Homo sapiens: one gene and its partners. The protein of the gene in region 2 purifies or fractionates together with the protein of the main gene of each other region. This does not show direct contact. Each region holds a gene or a part of one and is shown on either strand. Other genes may lie near its edges.

Region 1 (3,287 bases), on a different chromosome or scaffold from region 2:
GGGCCGACAGCTCTAGACACTCACTGGTGGGCCAGGGACAATCATCAGGGCCCAGGACAAGCAGGCCCCGGGGATCCAGTGTTAGCCAGGACAGTGACAGTGAGGGACACTCAGAAGATTCTGAGAGGCGGTCTGGGTCTGCGTCCAGAAACCATCATGGATCTGCTCAGGAGCAGTCAAGAGATGGCTCCAGACACCCCAGGTCCCATCACGAAGACAGAGCCGGTCATGGGCACTCTGCAGAGAGCTCCAGACAATCAGGCACTCATCATGCAGAGAATTCCTCTGGTGGACAGGCTGCATCATCCCATGAACAGGCAAGATCAAGTGCAGGAGAGAGACACGGATCCCACCACCAGCAGTCAGCAGACAGCTCCAGACACTCAGGCATTGGGCACGGACAAGCTTCATCTGCAGTCAGAGACAGTGGACACCGAGGGTCCAGTGGTAGTCAGGCCAGTGACAGTGAGGGACATTCAGAAGACTCAGACACACAGTCAGTGTCAGCCCACGGACAGGCTGGGCCCCATCAGCAGAGCCACCAAGAGTCCACACGTGGCCGGTCAGCAGGAAGGTCTGGACGTTCAGGGTCTTTCCTCTACCAGGTGAGCACTCATGAACAGTCTGAGTCCGCCCATGGACGGACCGGGACCAGCACTGGAGGAAGACAAGGATCCCACCACAAGCAGGCACGAGACAGCTCCAGGCACTCAACGTCCCAAGAGGGTCAGGACACCATTCATGGACACCCGGGGTCAAGCAGTGGAGGAAGGCAGGGATCCCACTACGAGCAATTGGTAGATAGATCTGGACACTCAGGGTCTCATCACAGCCACACCACATCCCAGGGAAGGTCTGATGCCTCCCATGGGCACTCAGGATCCAGAAGTGCAAGCAGACAAACTCGTAACGATGAACAATCAGGAGACGGCTCCAGGCACTCAGGGTCGCGTCACCATGAAGCTTCCTCTCGGGCCGACAGCTCTGGACACTCGCAGGTGGGCCAGGGACAATCAGAGGGGCCCAGGACAAGCAGGAACTGGGGATCCAGTTTTAGCCAGGACAGTGACAGTCAGGGACACTCAGAAGACTCTGAGAGGTGGTCTGGGTCTGCTTCCAGAAACCATCATGGATCTGCTCAGGAGCAGCTAAGAGATGGCTCCAGACACCCCAGGTCCCATCAAGAAGACAGAGCTGGTCATGGGCACTCTGCAGACAGCTCCAGACAATCAGGCACTCGTCACACACAGACTTCCTCTGGTGGACAGGCTGCATCATCCCATGAACAGGCAAGATCAAGTGCAGGAGAAAGACATGGATCCCACCACCAGCAGTCAGCAGACAGCTCCAGACACTCAGGCATTGGGCACGGACAAGCTTCATCTGCAGTCAGAGACAGTGGACACCGAGGGTACAGTGGTAGTCAGGCCAGTGACAATGAGGGACATTCAGAAGACTCAGACACACAGTCAGTGTCAGCCCACGGACAGGCTGGGTCCCATCAGCAGAGCCACCAAGAGTCCGCACGTGGCCGGTCAGGGGAAACGTCTGGACATTCAGGATCTTTCCTCTACCAGGTGAGCACTCATGAACAGTCTGAGTCCTCCCATGGATGGACGGGGCCCAGCACTAGAGGAAGACAAGGATCCCGCCATGAGCAGGCACAAGACAGCTCCAGGCACTCAGCATCCCAAGACGGTCAGGACACCATTCGTGGACACCCGGGGTCAAGCAGAGGAGGAAGGCAGGGGTACCACCACGAGCATTCGGTAGATAGCTCTGGACACTCAGGGTCCCATCACAGCCACACCACATCCCAGGGAAGGTCTGATGCCTCCCGTGGGCAGTCAGGATCCAGAAGTGCAAGCAGAACAACACGTAATGAGGAACAATCAGGAGACGGCTCCAGGCACTCAGGGTCGCGTCACCATGAAGCTTCCACTCATGCCGACATCTCTAGACACTCACAGGCAGTCCAGGGACAATCAGAGGGGTCCAGGAGAAGCAGGCGCCAGGGATCCAGTGTGAGCCAGGACAGTGACAGTGAGGGACATTCAGAAGACTCTGAGAGGTGGTCTGGGTCTGCTTCCAGAAACCATCATGGATCTGCTCAGGAGCAGCTAAGAGATGGCTCCAGACACCCCAGGTCCCATCAAGAAGACAGAGCTGGTCATGGGCACTCTGCAGACAGCTCCAGACAATCAGGCACTCGTCACACACAGACTTCCTCTGGTGGACAGGCTGCATCATCCCATGAACAGGCAAGATCAAGTGCAGGAGAAAGACATGGATCCCACCACCAGCAGTCAGCAGACAGCTCCAGACACTCAGGCATTGGGCACGGACAAGCTTCATCTGCAGTCAGAGACAGTGGACACCGAGGGTACAGTGGTAGTCAGGCCAGTGACAATGAGGGACATTCAGAAGACTCAGACACACAGTCAGTGTCAGCCCACGGACAGGCTGGGTCCCATCAGCAGAGCCACCAAGAGTCCGCACGTGGCCGGTCAGGGGAAACGTCTGGACATTCAGGATCTTTCCTCTACCAGGTGAGCACTCATGAACAGTCTGAGTCCTCCCATGGATGGACGGGGCCCAGCACTAGAGGAAGACAAGGATCCCGCCATGAGCAGGCACAAGACAGCTCCAGGCACTCAGCATCCCAATACGGTCAGGACACCATTCGTGGACACCCGGGGTCAAGCAGAGGAGGAAGGCAGGGGTACCACCACGAGCATTCGGTAGATAGCTCTGGACACTCAGGGTCCCATCACAGCCACACCACATCCCAGGGAAGGTCTGATGCCTCCCGTGGGCAGTCAGGATCCAGAAGTGCAAGCAGAACAACACGTAATGAGGAACAATCAGGAGACAGCTCCAGGCACTCAGTGTCACGTCACCATGAAGCTTCCACTCATGCCGACATCTCTAGACACTCACAGGCAGTCCAGGGACAATCAGAGGGGTCCAGGAGAAGCAGGCGCCAGGGATCCAGTGTGAGCCAGGACAGTGACAGTGAGGGACATTCAGAAGACTCTGAGAGGTGGTCTGGGTCTGCTTCCAGAAACCATCGTGGATCTGTTCAGGAGCAGTCAAGGCACGGCTCCAGACACCCCAGGTCCCATCACGAAGACAGAGCCGGTCACGGGCACTCTGCAGACCGCTCCAGACAATCAGGCACTCGTCACGCAGAGACTTCCTCTGGTGGACAGGCTGCATCATCCCATGAACAGGCAAGATCAAGTCCAGGAGAGAGACACGGATCCCGCCACCAGCAGTCAGCAGAC
Region 2 (2,717 bases):
TTTGGGGTCAGTCTACTCTCAGGACTGAAATTTCCTTAAGGACAAGGTTGTGAAATTTTAAAATTCTCCTGCTCCAATGTTCAGCATGGAGCCTGGGCCAGAACAGCGCTCAGGAAATATGTGAGGAAGAAGGAACCATGGGATGAGGAGTAGTGGAGAGAAACTGAAGAAGGATGTATTGGTCAATTTGGGCTGCTATAGCAAAATACCATAGAGTGGGTGGCTGATAAACAGAAATTTCTTTCTGGCAGTTCTGGGGTCTGGGAAGAGCAAGATCAAGGCACTGGCAGATCCAGTGTCTGGTGAGAGCCCTCATTCTCATAGATGGCACCTCTGGCTGTGTCCTCACATGGTGGAAAGGACCAACAAGCTTCCTTGGGCCTGTTTTATAAGGAGCTGATTCCATTCATGAGGAGTTTGCCCATGATCTAATCACCTCCCAAAATGCCCCACCTTCTAATATCATCACCTCGGGGGTTAGGACTTCAACATATGAATTTCAGGGGGATAAACCTTCAGACTATAGCCCCTACTAATTTTGAAGTTCAGCCCACTTCTGATTACCTTATCTAATAACTGAAAATTTAAACATTTAAGAATATAAATATAAACACTTGAACTGGGGTTGAGGGGCGTTTAGTGAGTCTTGGTTTGTTTTTTGTTTCTTGTGTGTGCATTTTTTTTGTTTGTTTGGTGCTTCTTGTGAGAAATCTTGATTTCTCCAGGTAGACTAACCTTTTCCAGGTGGGTGTTGCCATGACAGCACAATAGAGCACAGAATGTCAATTGCAATCCTCTTTTTACTTTTTCAGGTTACAAATGCTGCTGCCAACTGTCCTGGCCAAATGACTCTGCATCACAAACCTTTCCTTGCATGTGGAGGGGATGGATTTACTCAGTCCAACTTTGATGGCTGCATCACTTCTGCCCTATGTGTTCTGGAAGCTTTAAAGAATTATATTTAGTGCCTATATCCTTATTCTCTACATGTGTATTGGGTTTTTATTTTCACAATTTTCTGTTATTGATTATTTTGTTTTCTATTTTGCTAAGAAAAATTACTGGAAAATTGTTCTTCACTTATTATCATTTTTCATGTGGAGTATAAAATCAATTTTGTAATTTTGATAGTTACAACCCATGCTAGAATGGAAATTCCTCACACCTTGCACCTTCCCTACTTTTCTGAATTGCTATGACTACTCCTTGTTGGAGGAAAAGTGGTACTTAAAAAATAACAAACGACTCTCTCAAAAAAATTACATTAAATCACAATAACAGTTTGTGTGCCAAAAACTTGATTATCCTTATGAAAATTTCAATTCTGAATAAAGAATAATCACATTATCAAAGCCCCATCTTAAGTCTTCGGATGTGTCCTTGAATCAATATTTTTGCAAATTATACAAAACAAGATTTTTCCAAAATGTAGGTAACAGAGTGTAATTCTTATTTCTCATTTATCCCCCAAGTTATTAAGTGATCCTGAATTGTAGGTCATATATGTCATCATCTTAGTGTGGAGGGCAACTTGACTGATAAAGAGACCTTCCTTCAGATTTTCAGAAAGTATAAGATTCCACATGATTTTCCCAGCCACACAGTACTTTTTAACTTTCAAACAAATTCCAGTCCTAATATGAAAGATAAAAATTAAATAGAAACAGAGAGAAAGTATATCGATCCTTACCTTTTGCTATATTTTATAGCTGTTGCTGTTACTTTATGGGTTCTCCAGTATGTGCTGTGGCATTTAGACTGTGTCGAGTTTAATGAATTTAACACAACAAAAAATTTACTGAACCAGAAAATAGATGCACTTAAAATAGTTCAATATTTGCCAAGTTGGTGGTTCAGCATATCACCCACATGCTTCAGTGACCTGACCCCACGACTTGCTAGCTGGAGAGAAATCAATCTCCAGCCTTCCAAACCAGCTACCTGTTGCTAATTTGAAAAGCAAAATGATGAGTTCTATTTCAGCATTTTGAAAGGAGAAAAATCATTGCAGCCTCTCAAACTAACAAAAGTTCAACAAAAGACTTCTTACTGTAATAGTGTTTAAAGTTTCACACTTACATGTCCACTGTCATACATACACATACACAGGCACAGGCAGAACTTGCTTCTATAGCTGCAAAGTGGGTTTTATGACCCTATAGCATATTATTATATGTTTCCTCTTAGCAATAAATTGGTGAAAAACTTAAATGCCAACATGTGGTTAATGTCACTTATTTTGAAAGCAGAGGGAGGAAGAAGGAAATTTGTAGTCTCTATAAAATGATGAAAAATAGTGATTTTTTGTTATTTTCGCCCATATTTGACTAACATTTGTCTTTATTTATATTTTTTAAATTTTAAATGTAGGGATACATATACAGGTTTGTTATATAGGTAAACTTGTGTGACAGAGATTTGTTGTACGGATTATTTTGTCACCCAGGAGTTAAGCCTAGTACCCATTAGTTATTTTTCCTGATCCTCTCCTCCCTCCCACCCTCTACTCTCAGGTAGGCCCCACTTTCTGTTGTCCCCTGTATGTGTCCATATGTTCTTATCATTTAGCTCCCTCTTGTTAGTGAGAACCTGTGGTATTTGGTTTTCTGTTCCCTCATTAGTTTGTTAAAGATAATGGCCTCCAGCTCCATCCATGTTCCTGCCAAGGACATGATCTCATTCTTTTTTATGGGTGCATCATATTCCATGCTATGTAT
Region 3 (2,618 bases), on a different chromosome or scaffold from region 2:
GCTCAGGTCATTCCTCTACCCATGGGCAACATGGTTCTACATCAGGACAGTCATCGAGCTGTGGCCAACATGGAGCTAGCTCAGGTCAGTCTTCCAGCCACGGTCAGCATGGCTCTGGCTCAAGTCAGTCTTCTGGCTATGGCCGACAGGGCTCTGGATCTGGCCAGTCTCCAGGCCACGGCCAGCGTGGGTCTGGGTCAAGGCAGTCTCCCAGCTACGGCCGACATGGGTCTGGCTCCGGTCGGTCTTCCAGCAGTGGCCAACATGGGTCTGGCTTAGGCGAGTCTTCTGGCTTTGGTCACCACGAGTCTAGCTCAGGGCAGTCCTCTAGTTACAGTCAGCATGGGTCTGGCTCAGGTCACTCCTCTGGCTACGGACAACACGGCTCTAGATCAGGACAGTCATCTAGGGGTGAACGACACGGATCTAGCTCAGGTTCGTCTTCCCACTATGGTCAGCATGGGTCTGGCTCCCGTCAGTCTTCGGGCCACGGCCGACAAGGGTCTGGATCTGGCCAGTCCCCTAGCCGCGGCCGACATGGGTCCGGTTTGGGGCACTCCTCCAGCCACGGCCAACATGGGTCTGGCTCAGGTCGTTCTTCCAGCCGTGGCCCATATGAGTCTCGCTTGGGTCACTCTTCTGTCTTTGGTCAACATGAGTCTGGCTCAGGACATTCCTCTGCTTACAGTCAGCATGGTAGTGGCTCAGGGCACTTCTGTAGCCAAGGACAGCATGGTTCTACATCAGGACAGTCATCAACCTTTGACCAGGAGGGATCTAGCACAGGCCAGTCTTCCAGCTATGGCCACCGTGGCTCTGGCTCCAGTCAGTCTTCTGGCTATGGCCGACATGGGGCTGGATCTGGCCAGTCTCTTAGCCACGGCCGACACGGGTCTGGTTCAGGGCAGTCTTCCAGCTACGGCCAACATGGGTCTGGCTCAGGACAGTCCTCTGGTTATAGTCAGCATGGAAGTGGCTCAGGGCAAGATGGGTATTCTTATTGCAAAGGAGGAAGTAACCATGATGGGGGAAGTTCTGGCTCATATTTTCTCAGTTTTCCTAGTAGCACTTCACCCTATGAATATGTCCAAGAGCAGAGGTGCTACTTTTATCAGTGAATAATAAACATAAATGCAATTTACTCAAGTAGCAATTTAAGAAATAGGAAAGTCATCTATGAATTCATCATGAAAGACAAGCAATCCATCATGAAATTCGTTCTAAAAGTGAATCAATGCATTTCTGTCTCTTTCTTTAGAGCCTAAAACTGTAGCATATATCTTGTTATGGGGTTCCTTCCAAAGACTGTTAGGCATTTGTGCTACTTTGTTAGAAAATACTGAGTGGAATAACTTGTTAGAATGAGGGTTAAACTTTGAGGAATAATGAAAAGCTTTTAAAGAGCTTTGGGTTTAGTTGGAGTTGTCTTTTTGAGAGCTCATCATTCATTTATAGATGGTGCCAAAGCTAACCTTACATTTCTTAGAAGCAAAATATTACAAATGCATTACCAGTCCTAGATACAAAGCTTTGTTTTACAGCAATTAGTGTACCCTAATTTTTAGTGTGCCCCAAGTTTGGTGTGTCCCAATTTTTGGTATTGTGGCAGAAGGTGAAGGCTCTGAAAGCAAAGATGCAGCAGCGGTAGTGTCTTTACTTATCAAAACCATCAAGTCCTTTTTCTTGGGTATATATTTAATCAGTAAGTTAATTAGTGGCATAAAAAAGTAGCATCAGGGTCTTTTCCCAAGCCAGTGAGCAAGAGCATTATTTCATAAAGAATAGGGATTTATCATTTCAGGAAAAAAAAAAACATTCAAATGTGGGCTTTAGCTTGTTTTCAGCAGAAAGATCTTGCTCCCTATTTCTAAGAGGCTGCTCAATATTGGGAAATATATTGAGGAGTTATTCCATGGAAATACAATGCTTTCCACCTACTACTGTAGTTCAATAACGTTTCCACCTGAAAAAATATCATCCATGCCCAGATGAAAAGGAAGAGTATCTGTCACTGCTACATAGTTCCTTAATTTGACTGTAACACATTTGTTTCAAGTCTTTGGATTCAAACAACCGGATTGTATTAAAATTGACAATAAATAAATGTTGATTAAATACTAAGACTTTTCTCATCTGTGCTTCATTTCACTTCTTACATACAGATGGTCATCCTAGAAACCAAACCAAACAGCGATTTCCCAATATTCTATTTTTCACAATGAAGAATAGATAAAGCATTCTTAAAACTCAATAAGACAAACTACTTCATTTTAAAATGATCAAAATTCCATCACACTGGTATTGGCAATGATTTTTTTGATATGACACCAAAATCACACACAATAATGTGGAGCTGTCAGCTCCATACATTTTATTGTCCCTGAAGCCCTTAGAGGGAGACAACATATGGAGGTAGAAGGCGATATTTGTCTTGGTTTAACAAAAACTTTTTAGTGTTAGTTTTAATTTTTAACAAAAAAAGTTTTTTAAAAAAATTTAAAACAGAAAAAAGCCTACAGAATAATGATGTAAAGAAAAAAATATTTGTGTTCAGCTATACAATGTGTTCGTGCTTTAAGCTAGGTGTTAATTAAGAGAGTCAAAAAGTTTAAAAATGT
Region 4 (4,105 bases), on a different chromosome or scaffold from region 2:
AACTATAAAACAAAACTTCAGATCTATGACATGTTATGAGTTCCCAGCTTTTATTGTCATTTACTACTATGTATCACTAGGTAAAGCACTTGACTTCTCTGGAGCTCTTTCTTCTACTCTACTTCCTTCTATTTCTCCTGTCCCTTTTCTATGACATTAGTAGGAAACTGGCCATGAAAGAATAAAAATAGTTCAACTTACCTGGTAAATTCTAACAGATATTTCAAAAACTAATTTGATTATAAAATCACAGTATACCACATTATTTGTTATAAAAGGATAGGTGTCTAAAAAATAAAAAATAAAAATGTAAGGAAAACAGAGAAAAACATAATGCTTGTCTCTGTCAGTAAATAAAAGTTATGTGTAAGTAGCCTTTGAGCTGCTGAAAACATATTCTTATGAAAAAATACAAAGTTTCACTTTTCATTCACCAATGATAACCATTTACTCCCTTTTACACACAAAACAAGTATAAATCCAAATAAATTTATATTTGAATATAGCACACTAATTACAGAAAAGCATACTCTTAACTCATTTTAAAGATGTCATGAAGCAAAAATAACTAATTTAGTGTCTATCGATGATTTGCCTACATCCTGTTTACTCACAACTGTAGCTGCTGAGTTCATTTTTGTACTCAATCTGGAATTATAACATTAAGATACTAACTATTGTCTAATTTTCTGTTTTCTAAGGGAGCTGATTCATCTGAAGAGGTGAGTCATTTTCATTCACTGGAAAACTTGTTTTCAGTTTTGTCCTCCCTACATTTGTATTGAATTATTAAACTTTTCTTCATTTTTCACAGAAATTTTTGCGTAGAATTGGAAGATTCGGTGTAAGTGTTCTCTGATAATGCTGTGTAGTCCAAATAAATTGTGTTCTCTGATTACTTATTCTTCTAGAAGAACCAATACTTATTTCTCAAATATGTGTAGTAGTTGCAAAAGTGTGCTTTGTTTTCCTCTATTTATGATACACAGGTAACAGTCACAAATGTATTGTGTCCTAACAACATTTAAGTTGAAACTCATAGTGCCAACCTGAAGAAACCAGTTACTCCCTGAGCCCTCAAGTATCATCTCCTAAGTAATCACTTTGACCTAAAAAATAGTTGAAATTCTAATTCTGTTAATTATAATATATGCCTCATGGAGCATAAAGGCTGATAATTACACATAAAATATGGTAAGTTTGCACCTTCTGATTTTTTTTGACGGTGATAAACTCATTAAATTAAACAGGTCATGATAAATGAGATAGCAAATTTCATTTATTTAACATTTTTCTTAATGTATGTATCTTGATGTCCCAGTATGTTGACATATAATGTCAATGTGATAGGGTTGCAAAAGATCCCCTAACTAATATAGTGAATACATGGATTAAAATAACACCAAATAAAAAGATACTCTAAAAGGGATGATGGTTATTTGTGTTAACAGAAGGAAGAAGTATTAAGGAATGTAGGAATCGTAAGAGACAGTAAGCTCATTAAAAGAGTGACTTGAAGAAACACCACATAAGCTGAATTTAGTAAATGTCTCCTTCCCATAATACTCAAAGGTGGGCAAAATGGTTGCTGGGAGGTAGTATTTTGAAGAAAATTTAAAACCTCTTTGGAGTGATAGCCTATAATCGGTGTTCCTGCATGTGAAATAAAACCACAAAACTGTGAACATGCAGTACAAAGGTAAACACTCAATCATTTTTACCTGCTTTTAAAATGTGTTTATAACCAAAAAGAAAAATCTAATTGAAAGTTTGGAAAAAAATCTTATAAGTAATATGTAAGTTCCTAAAACTTTAACAATCTAAGCTTCTAATAAAAACGCTTGCACTGTCATTATCTCAATTTTCTGCAATTTTCTTTCTCCTTGTGTGTATACAGTATGGGTATGGCCCTTATCAGCCAGTTCCAGAACAACCACTATACCCACAACCATACCAACCACAATACCAACAATATACCTTTTAATATCATCAGTAACTGCAGGACATGATTATTGAGGTAAGATGGGTTTAGTGACATTTTTTTTACTTTCTGTATCAGTGCTGACAGTTAAAAGAAGAAAAACAAAAACAAGACATTAAACCAACAGCAGTTCCAGTATAAGAAAGCAGCCAGCTGTATAGCTCCTTGAAATGTATTAATTTATATAAATGCTTCTGAGATAGTCTCTGTCCTGCTATGGTTAGAAGGCAGTGTTATAGAGTGGGGGACACCAGGGTTTGTATGCTGGCCCTGACAACTACTAGTTTCATGACTTTGAACTACTCCTAATGCTCCTGAACCTCAGTTTTCTCGTCAAAAAATTGTGTATTATGATAACACTTAAATGTGCTTTTTAGAATTGGTGACACTTTTGAAAGACATATCACATAAAATCTCTTGATCAGAAAGGTTTGTAGTTATAACTGCAGGGCTTCCCTGCCACTAAATCTGTACCTAGGTGTTGCTTAAAGTTTTCACTCCCAAAATGCAATCTTTGGAGAAGCTTCCATCTGGGAACCATCTGGGAACTTGTGAGAAATTTGCATTTTGTACCCTAAGTAACTCTACTGAGCAATTACTATAGAAATTATTAACATAATGCTAACAAGAAAATATGGAAATGTTATCAATTTCTTTTTAGAAAGTCAGTTTTACCTATCTCTACACAACATTAAATGTTCTAAATTCTATGAAAAAATAATATTTCAAAACAAAATAGAGCAAACTCTTGGAGATAAGGGAGGATTGTTCTACAAAGTTAAAATAGTCCAAAGGATTTCAATTATTTTTCAGTGCATTTGGGAGATTATATTCCAATTCAATTCTCTATTGCCATTAGTGATACAGGGAAGAGCCTGAACTTGATCCCCTAGGTTTTAGGTAATAGCTGATGACATTTAATCAAGAAAAGATGTATTGAAATATTATTTAGAGGAAATGCATATAAATGAAATGTGTAGGCTATATTTAAGTAGAAGAATAAAATAGTATGATGATTGAAAAATAATTTAAATTGTAGATGCTGAATGATAATTTTTATTTATTCAGGAACCAATTTAATAATTGTTTAATTGTCTACTCTGTGTCAAATATTATTTTGGGCCCTGCATTTTATAAACTATAATTGTATATAATATCTACTCTGTACCAGGCCAGAATATAAATGTGTTTACAGGGGTAAAAATTTTACAGATAATCTGTTATTTTTTTTTTTCTGTGCAGGCTTGATTGGCAAATACGACTTCTACATCCATATTCTCATCTTTCATACCATATCACACTACTACCACTTTTTGAAGAATCATCAAAGAGCAATGCAAATGAAAAACACTATAATTTACTGTATACTCTTTGTTTCAGGATACTTGCCTTTTCAATTGTCACTTGATGATATAATTGCAATTTAAACTGTTAAGCTGTGTTCAGTACTGTTTCTGAATAATAGAAATCACTTCTCTAAAAGCAATAAATTTCAAGCACATTTTTACATGTATGCTCCTTATTTTTCTCTTTTCTATTTATAGGAATAATGATTTCTTTCATCATCTTCTTTCCCAGTTTGACTAGCACAGATTGAAGCCCATAATGTCAGAGGTCCTTATTTATAATTTAGTCTGTCATATTTTATATGTTACAAACATGGTACTCAAACTCACTTATTATTAGAGCTATTTATGCCAAGATTTGATTTGCCCATGGTTTCCTTTGCCACACCACAGTTGCTAAGCCTCCAAAGCACTCACATTTTTTATCTCAGTCCCTGTAGGTCAGAAGATAACCACCATGTCACTCTACAGCAGTATGTAGGCACTCTGCATGTAAACCATCTAATGCCCTCCATTAGTTTTTCAGCAATGACTTTTATTCAAGAAATATTTATTGAATGACCCCAGCTGTCAGGTCCTCTTCTAGATGCTGCAGACAAAGAGAGACAAAAGTCCTGTCTTTGGAGAGTTTACATTGTAGTTGGGAGATGCAGATACAAAGTAAATAAATAGTACATATCTTAGGCAATGATAAGTGTGCTAAAGAAGTATAAGCATGTCTAGGGCACAGAAACAAATTTAAACAGGATAGTCAACAAGAGACTCTCTGACATAGTGA

What was found. The genes of interacting proteins can lie anywhere in the genome.
Region 1: the proteins of RNLS (region 2) and FLG purify together in Homo sapiens (pull-down; one study listed by IntAct). This does not show direct contact.
Region 3: the proteins of RNLS (region 2) and HRNR purify together in Homo sapiens (pull-down; one study listed by IntAct). This does not show direct contact.
Region 4: the proteins of RNLS (region 2) and STATH purify together in Homo sapiens (pull-down; one study listed by IntAct). This does not show direct contact.

What each region holds. Positions count from the first base shown.
Region 1 is NC_000001.11:152,304,953-152,308,239, reverse strand, and holds part of FLG (filaggrin), read left to right. Parts: coding exon 1-3,287.
Region 2 is NC_000010.11:88,283,602-88,286,318, reverse strand, and holds the end of RNLS (renalase isoform 1 precursor), read left to right. Parts: intron 1-812; coding exon 813-965; 3' UTR 966-2,217; downstream 2,218-2,717. UniProt on the Homo sapiens protein: Catalyzes the oxidation of the less abundant 1,2-dihydro-beta-NAD(P) and 1,6-dihydro-beta-NAD(P) to form beta-NAD(P)(+). The enzyme hormone is secreted by the kidney, and circulates in blood and modulates cardiac function and systemic blood pressure.
Region 3 is NC_000001.11:152,211,576-152,214,193, reverse strand, and holds the end of HRNR (hornerin), read left to right. Parts: coding exon 1-1,118; 3' UTR 1,119-2,118; downstream 2,119-2,618. UniProt on the Homo sapiens protein: Component of the epidermal cornified cell envelopes.
Region 4 is NC_000004.12:69,998,966-70,003,070, forward strand, and holds the end of STATH (statherin isoform a precursor), read left to right. Parts: intron 1-701; coding exon 702-722; intron 723-814; coding exon 815-844; intron 845-1,897; coding exon 1,898-1,984; 3' UTR 1,985-2,017; intron 2,018-3,223; 3' UTR 3,224-3,605; downstream 3,606-4,105. UniProt on the Homo sapiens protein: Salivary protein that stabilizes saliva supersaturated with calcium salts by inhibiting the precipitation of calcium phosphate salts. It also modulates hydroxyapatite crystal formation on the tooth surface.